Linked DNA regions of Homo sapiens: region 2 is linked to region 1. Evidence: fine-mapped expression QTL. Tissue or cell type: sigmoid colon. Region 1 holds a variant in brackets; the other region holds the start of a gene. All regions are shown on one strand. Distances are from middle to middle.

The links. PIP is the estimated chance that this variant, and not a neighbour inherited with it, causes the effect.
Region 2: it holds the start of CRYM, and the variant in region 1 is fine-mapped to the expression of CRYM in sigmoid colon (GTEx, PIP above 0.99). The same link has a PIP of 0.9 or more in putamen.

Annotation. Positions count from the first base shown.
Region 1 is chr16:21,223,189-21,231,295 of GRCh38, forward strand. LOC105371123 (a long non-coding RNA gene) reads right to left here. Exons shown (of 2, transcript XR_001752344.2): 2 at 3,576-4,397. Among named protein-coding and RNA genes, the nearest start is that of ANKS4B, 6.5 kb to the right of the region's middle. RefSeq lists an enhancer at 1-21. The variant GTTTA/G (reference allele first, on the strand shown) is at 4,089.
Region 2 is chr16:21,274,253-21,282,345 of GRCh38, forward strand. CRYM (crystallin mu) reads right to left here and starts at 4,038. Exons shown (of 8, transcript NM_001376256.1): 1 at 3,830-4,038; 2 at 3,179-3,332; 3 at 1,280-1,342. The coding sequence starts at 3,999. RefSeq lists an enhancer at 3,830-4,039.

The sequences.
Region 1 (8,107 bases):
GTCGGTTGGGTGCAAGGAAATGGCTTTAGTGTGATGAGAATGGCAAGTGACTAACTATTGCCCTCAGGGTCAGGATTACAGCTCTGGGCAGCTGGGGGTGATGTGGACTGTTGAGTCCAGGCTGCATCTAAAGAAATAACTGCTTTGGCTGGGCACAGCGGCTCACACCTGTAATCCCAGCACTTTGGGAGGCCAAGGTGGGTGGATCCCCTGAGGTTGGGAGTTCGAGACTAACCTGACCAACCCGGAGAAACCTCCTGTCTACTAAAAATACAAAAAAATTAGCCGGGCATGGTGGCGCATGCCTGTAATCCCAGGTACTCTGGAGGCTGAGGCAGGAGAATCACTTGAACCCAGGAGGCGGAGGTTGCAGTGAGCTGAGATCGCGCCATTGCACTCCAGCCTGGGCAACAAGAGCAAAACTGCATCTTAAAAAAAAAGAAAAAAGAAAAAAAAGAACTGCTTCCCAGCTCAGGCAGAGGTAATTGTCATGATCTTCAGTTTCTCATCTGGAAGCTGAAAATCCAGATTCCATTCAATTTCCTCAATTTTAATGTTGATATTTAATGTTAAAGATATTTTCAAAATCCTGTGCCTGCCAAACAAGACATATCTCTGGCCATATTTATTCCCATCCACCAGCAGCCTGTAACTTCCAAAACCATGGAGAGACCATGCATATAGTGGCTGAGCTGCTGCTCACCCTGTGGGCGTGGGGCAGGAGGCGAACCTGCAGCTCCTCCCACTCCGTCCAGATCTCCCCCTTCAGCTTCTCTGAATCCTAGGCCAGGTGCGTTTGCAGCTTTGTCTATGGTGAAAGGTGGCAGCTTATCCTGTAGACACCTGTGTCGTCGAGGTTGGGGGTGGTGAGAGACAGGCGTGGGTTTCGTTTTATTCTCTGGGGTTCCAATTTGTCTCTGCAGATTCTAATTTGTTCTTTTTCTTTACTTCCTCTCCATCTTTACTTCCCAATTGCTGGCCCTACGGACTTTGGGTCTAACATCTGGTGCAGAAGAAATAGCCTTACTAGACAGCTTACCTGGCTTCCAGGTATAAGCTTAATCTCTGCAATAAACCCTTTATTCTATATCACTCAGAATGGTTCTGCTTCTCTGATGAAACCTGACTGATACAGAATTTGGTTGCTACCTCCTTATATGAGAGGCAAGGAACCTGGATTGCAGATAGGGACAATAACTCTAGGTCCTACAGTTACTTAGTGACAGTCCTGGGAATTGAATCCAGGGTTCCCCTCATCTCTGCTTTTTACTTTTTCCCCTGTGTTTAAAGAAGTTGATTCTCACCTTTGTATAATCTTTTTTTATTTTTTTGCGACAGAGTTTCACTCTTGTTGCCCAGGCTGGAGTACAGTGGCACAACCTTGGCTCACTGCAACCTCTGTCTCCTGGGTTCAAGTGATTCTCCTGCCTCAGCCTCCAAGTAGCTAGGACTGCAGGTGCGTGCCACCACACCCAGCTAATTTTTGTATGTTTAGTAGAGATGGGGTTTCACCATGTTGGCCAGGCTGGTCTTGACCCCCTGACCTCAGGTGATACATCCACCTCGGCCTCTCAAAGAGCTGGGATTACAGGTGTGAGCCACCATGCCTGGCCACCTTTGTATAATCTTTAAAGCATCTTTTCCATAAAATGTCCCCCACCATTCAAATAACAGCTGAGTCCTGCTAAGTCTCCTTTGATCATAGCTCTGTAAGCCACTCCTTCCTCATTTGGTCCTCTGCAGGTTTTGTAAGCCACATGTACATCGTTCACGTTTCATCCAGAGTTCTGGGAAAGAGTAGGTGGTTCCCAGAAACAATGTGAGTTCATGAGTCTTTCTAAGAAGAAGGGAAGAAAGTTTTTGTCAAGGCCACAATGTATAGACCTTGTGCTAAGCACTGATTTATAAATAATCCAGATAGGAGTAAGAAAATGAAATGAAGTCTCCTTGAGGTGAATTTTCCTCCAGTTGATAGTAGTAGAAAGCTATTATGGGCTGAAAATATATCTCCCCCACCATTCATGTTGAGGTCCTAATTCCCAGCACCTCAGAATGTTACTGTATTTGGAGATAGCCTTTGATACGGTTTGGCTCTGTGTCCCCATCCAAATCTCATCTCAAATTGTAATTCTCACGTGCTGAGGGAGGGAGGTGATTGAATCATGGAGGTGATTTCCCCCATGCTGTTCTAGTGATAGTGAGTTTGTTCCTATGAGATTTGATGGTTTTATAAGTGTTTGGAAGTTCCTCCTTCATTCTCTCTCCTACCACTGTGTGTGGAAGATGCTTGCTTCCCCTTTGCCTTTGCCAGGATTGGGTTTCCTGAAGCCTCCCCAGCCATGTTGGAACTGTGAGTCAATTAAACCTCTTTCCTTGATAAATTACCCAGTCTCGGGTATTTCATTATAGCCGTGTGAAAACAGACTAATACAGCTTTTACAGAGGTGATGATGTTAAATGAAGTTATTAGGGTGTGCTCTAATCAATATGACCATCTTATAAGGACCAAGTGTCCTTATAAGAAGAGAAAATTTGGACACAGACATGTGAAGAGGAAGATGACATGAAGACACAAGGAGAAAATGGCCATTTGCAAGTCTTTTTCCAGGAGAGAGGCCTGGAACAGGTCCTTTCCTCACAGCCCTCAAAAGGAACCAACCACGCTCACACCTTGATTTCAGATTTCTGGCTTTCAGAACTGTAAGAAAATAAATTTGTTTAAGCCACTCAGTCTGTGGTACTTTGTTATGGAAGTCCTAGTAAACTATTACAAAACCCCAGATTGAAATTCAATTCTGTGTGACTGTAAAATATATATTATTTTTATTATACCATGATAAGGGGTAGGACAAAAAAAAAAAAACAAAACTAGGTCTCGGCTGTTGTTATTGAGAAGGAAAATGCAGAGAAAAGAGAAGTTTTAAGAAAATGCTGCATTTATATAGATTGACTTAAAGAAAGGAGAAACTTTCTTTCTCCTAGTGCTAGTACTACTATTAATTTACTTTAATTAAGTGCTGACTACACACCATAAACTGTACTTAGTATTTTACAAATATTCAGTAATTACTTGCAACAACCCTGTGAATGATTCTCTTTTAAAGAGAAAAGTACTGTCTTTATTTTACTGATGAAGAAACTAAAGCTTAGGGAGAAGTAATTTGCCCAACTTAATGGGAAGATCCAATCTGGGGCTTAATATCTGTCAGTCTCTGACTTCAGACCCCATGTTCTCAATCATTATTCTACTCTGGCTTTATTTCAACACAATGCTTGGAGTTTACATTTGCTTGTCTTTCCAATCCAACCATCAGCTTTGTAAGAGTTGAACGGTTTTGATGGTATTTGATGATCTGCTAATGGATGCTATAACACACCTCCCTTGTGGTAAATTCTACCATCTTTGAAACAAAATGGCACCTAACATAGGTTTTTCCAATGATTGTCGTTCCTGCAGTTTTTCTAGAACTTGAGTTATAGAGGGGACCTGTTGGTAGAAGAATTACATGGATTGAAATTTTCAAGTCACAGAACCAATAATTAGGAAGAAGGAAAGACATAAGAAAAAAGGGAAATTTGTTCAGCTAACAAAGCCAGTTTAATCAAGTGTAGAATTTAAATTCCTAGCCCCTGCTTAGACTATCCAGTATTCAAATTTGAAAGAATTTGTTTTTGGAAGCCTTTATAAAACTCTTCACTGTTACAATGTATGCCATCTGGGATTTAGCATTTATAAAATGTGCAGTTAAGAGATGCCAAGAGATTCCTCATGCAAACCAGATGGTACAATAACAGCTCTGTCTTTAGTTTTCTGCCAGAAAAATAGGCCTTTGAATGGCTTGAAACTTATATGAATAAATTAAGCTCAACCAATACTTCAGGGACATTACAATTTCAATAGGCAACTTATCCACTTAAATATTTTTATAAATGTTTTCATTTAGAAAAGAAGAAACAAAAAGGCAGACAATGATTCTTTTTGATTGTTAAAGAATACAAACATGATACAATGCTTTTAAGGAAAACATCAATGACTTTCAATGTGGGAAAGAAAGTTTCTCCTTATTTTGACAGTGTTATATGTGTTT[GTTTA/G]TTTATTTTTTGAGACGGAGTTTTGCTCTTGTCGCCCAGGCTGGAGTGCAATGGCACAATCTCGGCTTGCTGCAACCTCTGCCTCCCAGGTTCAAGTGATTCTTCTGCCTCAGCCTCCCAAGTAGCTGGGACTACAGGCATATGCCACCACGCCCAGCTAATTTTTGTATTTTTAGTAGACACGGGGTTTCACCATGTTGGCCAGGCTAGTCGATGAATGTGTTTAAGTTAGAAGTGAAGTTGTTGAAATTTCTTCCGAATAGGAGAAATCCATATCAAATAGGTTGAACAGTTGTATCATTGTGCTAAAGAGAAAAGAATACACATGTAAGTGACATTTTCTGGATAATATATTTGAGCACATCTTTACCTTAACAGATAGTCTCTCATAAACCCAAGGGCAGTGCATACAGCAGTGTGTTACTGATGGCTTCTTTTGTCCTTGCCTGGTTCCTGCAAGTTTTCTATGGAACAACAGGACTTTTGTATTACTCTCTAATTTCCCTTACTTTGTTACTGTTTTTATTTTCATTAAAATTCATAATAAGATCCTCATTAGATGAAGTAATCTTGTTAAAAGCAGTGTTCTACTCTGATCTTTTTCCTTCTTATGTAAAAAAAAAAAATGTGCTTCCCTACCATACAAGTGAATTTCTTCTCTAATTAGACATGAATAGCTTTAGAGATCAAACACAGGCTGCTTTTGAAAACCAGATCTCTTAGGACACAGGGGCAATCTCATTACTGAAAATATGTGTTTCTGGGTTGCACAAGCCATTGAATTTCTTTCCCAATTAGCAGCAAATGGTTTTTCAGAACAATGAGGAAGAAGTTTGGTTTGTACTTTGCAAGTGTTGTTTTTTTCTTGGAGTTAGACTGGAAGTATCAACTACCATCATCTCTGTCCCTTCTTTTCCTCTCCCTGAGCAAAGGAACACACATGACTCTGTTTTATAGATAGTCAGAGTTCCAGGTAAATTCTTCATCCAAATGCTACTTCCTCTGGGCCAGGATTGGACTCCATGGTAGAAGGAACACCTATTTAAGACTACCTAGTTGTCAGCTACTGTCAGCTGTTATGATGTTAGGGGAGACTGCAAAATCATAAACACAGCAATGAGAAGCTGACAATGTCCTTGCTCTGGGGGGAGGAGGGGAACCATTCATGAGAGAATCTCTCCAAGTGCTGCCCCTAGAAGCAGATTAACCATGTTTTCTCTGGGTCTTTGGCAAAAAAGAAGTGGTGTCTGTGGAGAAGGGCTTCTTATCATTAAATAACCAACTGCTTGGGGTTCCAGATAATAGGTTGAGGTTCTAGAGTTTTAGGACAGTGCAGGAGGAAATAAGACCTGCCTGTCTAAACCTAAGTGTCAGTCAGAGTCAAGGGAACACAGAGGTCATGGACAGGATGTTTCTCTAAGTTGAGACATACTAGTAGTGCAGGAGTATGGGGAGATATGAGGAGCATGGCGAGGCTCCAACAGGAAGGTTGATGAGAGCTTTGACTTGGGGTCACTGCCACTCAGGTCCGAGCCTCAAAGTCTCTCCAGTGTGTGTCTGGCAAATATTCTTCTCTGGCCTTCCAAGAGTCCAGCTGTATGCTGATGGAACACGCTCAAATACTAATTTCCACAAGATCAGTACAGTCAAGAAAATCCACAACTGCCCCCACAATTACCATGACTCCTCACAAGGAATTAATGTCTACATTATATGCAAATTCGTGTTAGCTCTTTTTATTAATTTCTGCCCTTACCATCTCCCACCAATTTTGTTTCCTTTGGGCTTTGAGGAATTCAAAAATGATTACTGGGCTAAAACTTCCTCTGTCTGTTCCCTAAGCCACAATCACACTACTTCTAGTTTGTAAAAACATGCTTTATGGGTTGCAAGAAATTTTATTTCTTCATCTTTACTAAAGTTAGTTGATGCTGATGATAATGATGATATGATCACTAGCAACATCCCCCAGTTTTATCCACAAGGATATGGAGACTCAAATAGATGGAGTAACTTTTCCTGGATTATATGAACGCTAGGTCTTCAACCCTCCTTCCCAACCTCACCTTGAAGGGATAGGATAAGGAGGATCTTCAAGTTCAGAAAAATGTTTTAAATCCTTATCTCTGCCCCCACTTCCCCACCCCCCGCTGCCCCTGCCACCCCATTCTTCTCCCAAGGAGGAAATTTTCCCAAGGGCGTGCCAGAGGATGCCAGGATATTTACCATTTAAGAAAGTTTGGTTATTTCGCCATTTCACAGGAGACTTTAAGTTCTAGTCCTAAGGACTGCTGGAACTGAGAAATTCTTTCTCTTTCTTGTCTTCTATCTCCAATCCTTCTTCCCCATCTCTATAATTATTCTGTCCTCTTTACCCTTTGCCTCCATCCTGTGAAACTTAATCACGCAAATTGCATCATTCTTGTTATACCCAACTAAATCAGGGTTGAGAGGCTGGGTGGTGGAGTTGGGGGAGAAAGCACTCCGAGTACAAAAAATAAATAAATAAATAAAAATTGCTCCAAGAACGTAATTCTCAGCAAGACTGACTGCTGGAACTGCCTGCTGTAACCCGGGAGCAGTTTTATTTACAGCTGCTGAGATAACTTGCTGCAACTCTAGGACAAATTTTGCCCACTAATCAGAGCTTGCCAGCTCCCCAAACCCTTACTAGTGCCAATGAACTTTCTTGAAGAGCAATATGTAACATTTCTCTTGTTAATAAAACCTCTAAACTTCTCTTTTCTTCTTCAGACATACTGAAGACCACCTGGTCTATGTGTGTATCCCAAATTGCAAGTCTTTTTCCAAATAAAACATTAAATTTAGAGATTCAGCTCTAAATTTTTATTTTGACTTTGACAATCCTCATCCTAATTTGGCTTATGACCATCCTAGTGGCCACTATTCTTCTCTTTCTCTTCCTCTTCCTCATCCTTATCTTCTGAAAGCAGACCCTTTGGCTGGAGTCTTAGGATTCTACTACAAATAATACATCTTTGAGAAGTTCTCTATCGGTTATATGTATTTTTATTTTTTATTTTTTTTGCACTCTGTCACCCAGGCTGGAGTGCAGTGGTGTGATCTTGGCTCACTGCAACCTCAGCCTCCCAGGCTCAATCAATTCTCCTGCCTCAGCCTCATGAGTAGCTGGGCTTACAGGTGTGCACCACCATGCCCAGATAATTTTTGTATTTTAGTAGAGATGGGGTTTTGCCATGTTGGCCAAGTGGGTCTTCAACTCCCGACCTCAAGTGATTCACCCACCTTTGCCTCCCAAAGTGCTAGGATTATAGGCGTGAGCCACCTCGCCTGACCTGTTTTTAAATTTCAAAGTGCATTAATGAATGCAGTTGTATCTAAATTAAAGTGGCTCATGCAAAACTTGATGAAGAACCTTACCATTTTCTCACAGTATTCATAATCATGTTTGGATATGTCACTCTCTCTGGGCTAAAAACAATGTTTAAAAAAAGCTAAATAATGCTGCCCTCCAGGCTGCTTCTACTGCTCTTCACCTAGAAGCCAGAAAAAGGAACAAACAGTGACCTTTGGAGCTCATTATTATTGTGAAGAAACTGTAGATGAAAGCTTTGTACTTTTTCTGAGTGGGTAAATAATTTATCTTGGAATAAAAACTTAGACAAAAAGAGATAAGAGGAATATACAGTTACAGGCTTCAAAAATAGATATTTCTCACATCAGTTTAGTGGACAATTATCTAAATATATTAAAGATTGTGTAACAATATGGGGATATATTTATGATGGATTAAGGAGTGGAAAAGATGTAATGTAAAATTATATGTATTTGATGAAAACAATGTAAAAAATACACCACAGGAGAACATATGCATAGTTGATGAGTTATGTAAGGATGGCGGTTTCTAATTTAGTTGCAGTGTCTTCAGAGAACACGGTTTGCATGAACCCTGTTATTTGTTATTTGTCGAGAACTGCACTGCTTCTATTCAGTGGTCAGGTTTTATAAATATTCTGTGTGCTTAGAAAAAACA
Region 2 (8,093 bases), 51 kb after region 1:
TGGGAACATCATCACCCCCATTGCTTACTGTTCCCTCTGCCTGGAGTGCCCCTCCGTGTTTTTGCATGGTTCGCTAACTCACTGCTTTCAGCTTTGACTCAAATGTCACCTTCTCAGGGAGGCCTTTCTTGGATAATGTAAAATGTGACAGCTTCTCCAATACTCTCACTTCTGCTTTATCTTCACCTAACATGTTATGTGGCTTTTTGGATTATTGTTGGTTTTATTTTTTAGCAAATTCTAAGCACGCTATTAATCATTTATTAATATGTACTAATTATTTAATTACATATTATTTATTACTATTTAACACATTATTAAACTCAACAGATGTTTTTGTTTGTTTTGTTTTGTTTCCTTTTTGTTTTGTTTTTTAAGACACTCACTCTTTTGCCCAGGCTAGAGTGCAGTGGCTCGATCTGGGCTCATTGCAACCTCTGCCTCCTGAGTTCAAACGTTTCTCCTGCCTCACTCTCCCGGGTAGCTGAGATTATAGGCGCCCACCACCACGACCAGCTAATTTTTGTGTTTTTACAAGAGACGAGGTTTCACCATGTTGACCAGGCTGGTCTCCAACTCCTGAGCTCAAGTGATACGCCTGCCTCAGCCTCCCAAAATGTTGGGATTACAGGCGTGAGCCACTGTACCCAGCCTGTGTTTTCCTTTTTATTGGTATTGTCTACCTCCCCTGTGTGTGCCCCTCTGTTTTTCTCACTGCCATTTCCCTAACATTTAGAACAGTGCCTGACACATGATAGAAGCCCAGTCAATACTTGTCGAATGAATACAGGGATCTGGCTTGGATATGTTCAGTTCACTCAGCCTCTTGTGTAGTACTAGCTTTGGTCTATGGGACAATTATACTGTCTTACCAGGGGCAATGTGGTACAGGGACAAGAAGCCAGTCCTGGAAGCCAGAGAGGTCAAGTATTAAATTCTTACTCTAGCACTTATTAGCTGTGTGATCCTGGGCAATTCACAGAAGCTCTCTGAGCCATATTCCTTGACCTGGAAGGTGGAGAGAATTTCTCATTTCGATTCTTCAAGACTGATGGGAAGATTGAGAATTATGCACATAAGGTACTTGAAATCTGGTCATGCACACTAATTGGTAGCTAATAATTTCGTGAATTACTGATATATCTGACATCTGGAGTTCCAGCTATGTCCAACAGGAAACCAAAATAAGTTCCCCACTTCTCCTTTAGTCTCTCAAGATTGAGACACCAGACCCCACTTGACAGCTCACCTTAATGGTACAGCCAGCCATTCATCTTACCTTGGTGGCAATGGCAGAAACTGCAGCTGTTCTCTTTGCAGTTATGACATTTCCATCCATGACCTTGGAGGAAAAGAGAGACAGTGAGCAAGGGGAACCCCTGTCCACTGCATAAATTAGAAGAAACAGTTCTAAAATATTAGCTTAGGAAGTTTTATAGCATCCTACAAACAGCATGGGTTTGGCGTCAGACCTGGATCCGATTCCTCCACTTACGAGATATGCAACTTTGAACAAACACTTTAATCTTTAAGCACTGGTTTCCTCACCTGTAAAAAAGATAATGCCAGCCATTCAGAGGGTTATTGTGAGGATTAAATGCACTGGCATATCTGGAAACATCTAGCACATGGTGAGCCCTCAAGAACTGCCCATTTTCTTTTCTTGCCCTAGGATTCTCAAAACACCAAATTAAGAAGGAACTAGAGAGAGAAGGTTGCCAATTGACATCTGGACAACGGCCATGAAACTCTTAGTGGCTCTCCGTTCCTGCTGCACATGTGGAAAGCTTCGTGAAGATGCTCAGATACCACCCTTAGATTAACCCAGTCTGTATCTCTTCCAGGAGTGAGACCCAGACAGCCCAGGTGATTCCGATACACAGCGAAGGTTGAAAATTATGCCTCGCTAGTAAAAACCATCCTCTGCACTCCTCTCCCTGTTATTCATCTCAGCTGATCATCAAAAAATAGGCATCATCAACCTCATTTTACAGATGAGGAAGTGAATCACGAAGTCACTGAGCAGATTCAGCTGTCATCTAGTTTCAAAGCCTTGGGTTCTACCCCCCTAGGGAACCGCTGTTGGCAGGTAGTATGAATGCCATCTCGGTTGGATGAGTGTAAGTTGGGGAAAGCTAGATATTCTCAAAGGAGTGTTAAACGGCCAGATTATTTGGCGATCCAGAAATTCAGGGGAAAAGGAGGGACATTGTAAGACCCAGCTTGGAGCGCACAGACCTTAAGAGTTAACTGTCACACCTGGGAGTGATTCTTGAGTCTTTCACTAACCAGATGTGTGACCTCAAGCAAAGTGACTCTACTAACCTGAGCCTCAAGGACCTCAACAGAAATTGGGGGGAAGGGGAGTTAATAAAAACACCCATAGAGGAATTTTGCAGAATTGAATGTGATCAGCGTCTCCTTCTTGGCACATAAGTGCCCAATATGTAGCAGTTAAAATGGCGGTGGTCTTAGAAGAGTCTGGACCTATGGACCGTGGACTTAGACTGAGCAGCTCTGAAGTCCAACCATGCTAATTGTTGGTTACATAAACCTCGGTAAGTTGAACATAGTTGCTCTGACTCGGTTTCCTCATCTATAAAGTGGGAGTAATCATATTACCCATATCATAGAATAGTTTTAAGTATTAAGAGGATTAATAAATGTGAAATGTTTAGAAAAGTGCCTGATGCATTATAAAAAGTACTCCATAAACACAAGCTACTGCTACCTTTTGAAACTATGATTAGATATTAAAACAGGTCACACCGTATACCCCTCTGAAGACTCCCAGGGATTATAGAACACCCCTTCTTTTCCATGTCGACAAGGATTCAGTAAGTAAGTCTTCCCTTGGCTAATGGGTTCATTCAAGCTGCGTATTTGGGGCAACTGAGTATAGGACAAGGACATATGCAAGAATGACAACAAGATTATTATTTCCACACTGTCACATGCTTGAGGCAGCAGTGGGCGCTGGTGCCGTGTTATGCATCCTCAGGCAGTCCTAGAAATAGATACATGGACACAGATAACCTTCACTGTTGCTGGTATCCAGTCACTTGCAGAGGGGCACGCGTAGTCACAATCAAGACTCCCCCTGCTGCGGAGAACTTACTTTTGAGCTTCAATCTGGGCCCAGGGGCCCCATTCCACCCCGGGACAGGAAGTTGCTCACCGCCAGCAGGGTGCCATTGCTGGGCTCAAAGAGTAGCACAGTAGCCTGGTGGGAAGGGACGACCGAGGTGATGCCGCGGTCCTCGTAGAAGGTGACCAACTTGGTGGTCAGTGCATCCTCTGCAGCACTGTAGGCGGGCATGACCCCCAGGTAGCTACAAGGAGAGAGGGAGCAGCTTCAGCCCCTTCCCATCAATGCTGGGGTCTCTTAGAAAGTATCCATATACTTTCCTTTTTCTTTCCTTCCTCACCACCCCACTGGCCCTCTTCCAGCCCCCGCATCCCTCTGCCCTTCCCTTAGACACTATGCACAGTATGTTCAGAAGTCTGGCTCTGGATCAGAAAACCTTTCCAGCTCTGCCACTTAGTAGCTGTGTAAGCTTAGGTAAGTCACTTAACCTCTCTGAGTCTCAGTTTTCCACCAATCAAATGGTGGTATCAATACCTCCCTAGGTGGAGAGTGTGCTGAAATAAACAAGGTAACACCTGTAAAACGCCCACTTAGCACACCGGGTAGCGCCTATTAAAAGTGGCAGCTGTTAGCAACGGTTAGGCAAGCCGTCTCTTCCCTTCTCCCACCCCTCCTCTTCCTGCTCCTCCTTTCCCCGCTTTCCAGTTTCTCCTGCCCCTGACCCCGACCCTCCTCACTCACCCCCTGTGCTTGGTCACCGGCACCACGGTGCGCACGGGCTGCATGACCCCTCCTTCGGGACCGCTGGAGAAGTTGGCCAGGGCCGTCTCTAGAGGCGGGATGAGGAGGCTGGAGCTGCGGAGGTGTTCCTCCACCTCGGCCGCGCTCAGGAACGCTGGTACCCGGCTCATCTCGCCACCTGTGCCTTCTAACCTCAGTCTCCGCACCGCGATCCACGTACCCTCGGCTGTGCCCTTTATGAGCGCGCCCGCTGCTCTGTGGAGCCGCCTGCTGGTCACAGCCCAGCCTCCGGGGGCGGAGCAACCCCGCCCCGCCCCGCCAGCCCTCTCCTCCCCCTTCGCCCACCTCGACCCCTAAGGGTGGGCGAGATGGGTCCCTTCCAGCAACGGATTCCCCAAGATGGACATCGCGGTGGCGTGCTGGGAGTCAATATTGTTTGGTCCACTTTCTCAGTTCCTGTAATCAGCTGTAGCCACATTCCTTGACTTTTGCTTCCTACATAACCCCTCCCTATTAACTCGCTTTTTGCTGCTGTCTAGGTCACCGTGCCTGGGAAAGAATGGACAGGGAAAACGCTAACGGGGCTCCTTTATTTATTAAATTACTGCCTACTGCTAGGAGATAAAAGGAGACGGAGGCTTATTTAATTTTTTTTTCCTTTTAATTCTGTCCCCGTCTAGAGTCTCTTATCCTAGTCTTCCTCCCCCCTGTACCCCCAGATGTCTGGCCTTTGATTGCTAAGAACGCACAGTTTTCTCACAGGCTAACTAACCTAACAAACCTTCGCCTTTAAAGGGGGGAAGTTTGCAGGGCAAGGTGTAATCTTTTCCATCTCACAAAAAGCCAAATTGCAGGATCTTTTCTTCCAGGAGTTTTTACCTGAGATGGGGAAATAAAATCGGAAAGGAATGATGTAAAGCTTAAGGCAATAAATCCTAGTCATCAAATCAGTGATAGGAAAAGTAAGTTAATTCAAAGAAAAGAGAGATGATTTTGACCTGGAGTGGTTAGATAAGGGCTTCATGAAAGAGTGGGGAGAAACCAAGGTCTGAAATAATAATAGTGACGACAACAATGATAACATCAGGTTATTGATCTTTACTATGTACCAGATACTGCACCATGCACTTTATGTATATTATCTCATTTAATTATACAACAACCTCTAAGGTAGGGAGGTGTTGTTATTAGTTTTACTGTCCATTGGAGGCTCTGAGAAGGGAAGAAATTTAGTTCAAGGTCATCCACCAAGTCAGCAGAGGAGCTGGCTTTGCCCATGGTTGGACTTCAGAATTATATTCCTAATCATTAAGCTACTTTGGCAGAAAGAGAGGAAGAGGGCATTACAGGCCAAGTAAAGCCCTGAGGTGGAAGGCATGTTGAATAGCTCTGGGAACAGTGAGTTGCCAGATGTGTTAGGCTGGAATAAGGTGCTGAGGTCTAGGAGCATCAGAAGATAAAACTGAGAACGATTCTTGGAGTCAGGCAGCTGAGAATGGTGATTCCTAGGAAAGAAATTACATGCTCCAAGAGAGTAAGCATTTAGAAAGATGGGTCTTCTGCCAATGCAAAGGATGGAACAGATGAGCGAGAGCAGAGCCTGGGAGAAGGTCAAGAGGCAGGACTGCTGAAGTTGTGCTTTGTGGTATTTTGGTTGGAAGCTACATAGGGCATTTTGTAGGAAATGGTCACATCATGATAAAAGACAGTGGATGAGTAAGTGTCAAAATCAGTACCAATGAAATGAGAAATTGTACATAATGTGTTTAGCAACAGTGCTTGGCACAGAGTAGCCATGTAATAAGTGAACACTGAGAGAGAAAGAGAGAGAGAGAGAAGACACTGGTGGTTGGGAAAAGCTGATTTCAATGACACAATTTTGTTTCTTCGGTTCACCATCCCTAGAAATTTATGCCCAGAGCCGCTGGGCTTATAGAAATGTTTCTGGCCCATCACGTGTGCTGTTAGCATTAATATTACATCACATTTATTGGGTTTAGAAAGCACAGACATATAGCCCTGGCATGATAGTTCACGCCTGTAATCCTAGCACTTTGGGAGGCCCAAGTGGGTGGATTACCTGAGGTGAGGAGTTCGAGACCAGCCTGGCCAACATGGTAAAATCTTCTCTCTACTAAAAATACAAAAATTAGCTGGGTGTGGTGGCGGGTGCCTGTAATCCCAGCTACCCAGGAGGCTGAGGCAGGAGAATTGCTGGAACCCGGGAGATGGAGGCTGCAATGAGCCAAGATTGCACCACTGCACTCCAGCCTGTGTGACACAGTAAGACTTTTTTGGCCCTTTGTTTTTGTGAATGTGAACTAAAAATAAAATCCTATGCCCCCCACCTACTGAATGAACCCCCTCTGGGCCAAGCAGACCCCAGAAAAACCTTAAAGACTTAGTTTCCAGCCATGATGGGATGGCAAATCAGATATGCCTCATTACATCCTCTCCCTTTTAGAGTTTAGACACAACTGAGCAGCCTTAATGTTAATACAGAGATCACAAGACTGACAGAACAGACTCTTTGTGGCAATACGATAACAAATTATAAACAGGATCTAAGGCCATGCCAGGAAGGGTTAAGTCACGCACCCTTACACTTAAAGAAAAAAGCTATGTTCTAACTGCCACAGAGTTTTTGTTTTCTCCAGCAGCTAAACAAGCACTGGCTTGAAGATAAGCAATATTTTTGTTTTTGTTTTCCCCAGCCCTGCTCAGAGAAGATAGGGAACATGGCTTGGGCACAGTGGCTCACACCTGTAATCCCAGCACTTTGGGAGGCCAAGGCGGGCGGATCATGTGAGGTCAGGAGTTTGAGACCAGCCTGGCCAACGTGATGAAACCCCATCTCTACAAAAAGTACAAAAATTAGCCAGGTGTGGTAGCATGTGCCTGTAATCCCAGCTACTCAGGAGGCTGAGGCAGGAGAATTGCTTGAACCAGGGAGGTGGAGGTTGCAGTGAGCCGAGATCGTGCCACTGCACTCCAGCCTGGACAACAGAGTGATTCTCTCTCTCTCTCACTCTCTCTCTCTCTCTCTCTCTCTCTGTATATATATATATACACAAACATATATGTATATACATATATACGTATCTATGTATCTATATAGATATGTATATGTATCTATGTATCTATATAGATATGTATATATGTGCATATATATATATATAAATTTTTTTTTTGAAACAAAGTCCCTCTCTGTCACCCAGACTGGAGTGCAGTGGCATGATCTCAAGTGATTCTCCTGCCTCAGCCTCTCAGGTAGCTGGGATTACAGGTGCATGCCACCACCCCCGGCTAATTTTTGTACTTTCAGTAGAGATGGGGTTTTGTCATGTTGGCCAGGCTGGTCTCGGTCTCGAACTCCTGACCTGAGATGATCCACCCGCCTTGGCCTCCCAAAGTGCTGGGATTACAGGCATGAGCCACCGTGCCCGGCTGAAGATATGCAATATTAAAACAATTACAACTCATCCAAATCACAGATATTGACTAACCGACCCCTTGTTCCACCAGCCATAACTACAGCTTGATTGGACAAGAGACTGATTTCAGTAACTTTCTCCTGATAAGACTACCGACTATAGGATGGTTCTGGCTGACTTACAGAGGTTGCACACTTGCATGCCTTCATGTCCTGAAAAGACCTTTTGACGTATCAGGCTGAATTGTAATACATTTAAATGCTGCAACCACCCCAAAATGAACATGAGTTGTATGTAACATGCATGTTTGTTAAATACACATGCATCAGGACCACTTTCATGAATATTCATAGCTTCTTCTCTCACCTGTTGAATATGTATATTTAGCCAACCTGTTGAGCATAAAGCTCCTACCCCAACCCTCCTCCTTCAAAGTGCCTGTCTCTGATCTTGGCCAAGGCATGTGATATGGTTTGGCTCCATGTCCACACCCAAATCTCTTCTTATAGCTCCCATAATTCCCACATCTTGTGGGAGGGACCCAGTGGGAGATGACTGAATCATGGAGGCGGGTCTTTCCCCTGCGGTTCTGATGATAGTGAATGAGTCTCACGAGATCTGATGGTTTTAAAAATGGGAGTTGCCCTGCACAAGCTCTCTCTTTGCTATTGCCCTCCATGTAAGATGTGACTTGTTCCTCCTTGCCTTCCACTATGATTGTGAGGCCTCCCCAGCCATGTGGAACTGTAAATCCAATAAGCCTCTTTCTTCTGTAAATTGCCCAGTCTCAGGCATGTGTTTATAGACAGCATGAAAACGGAATAATACAG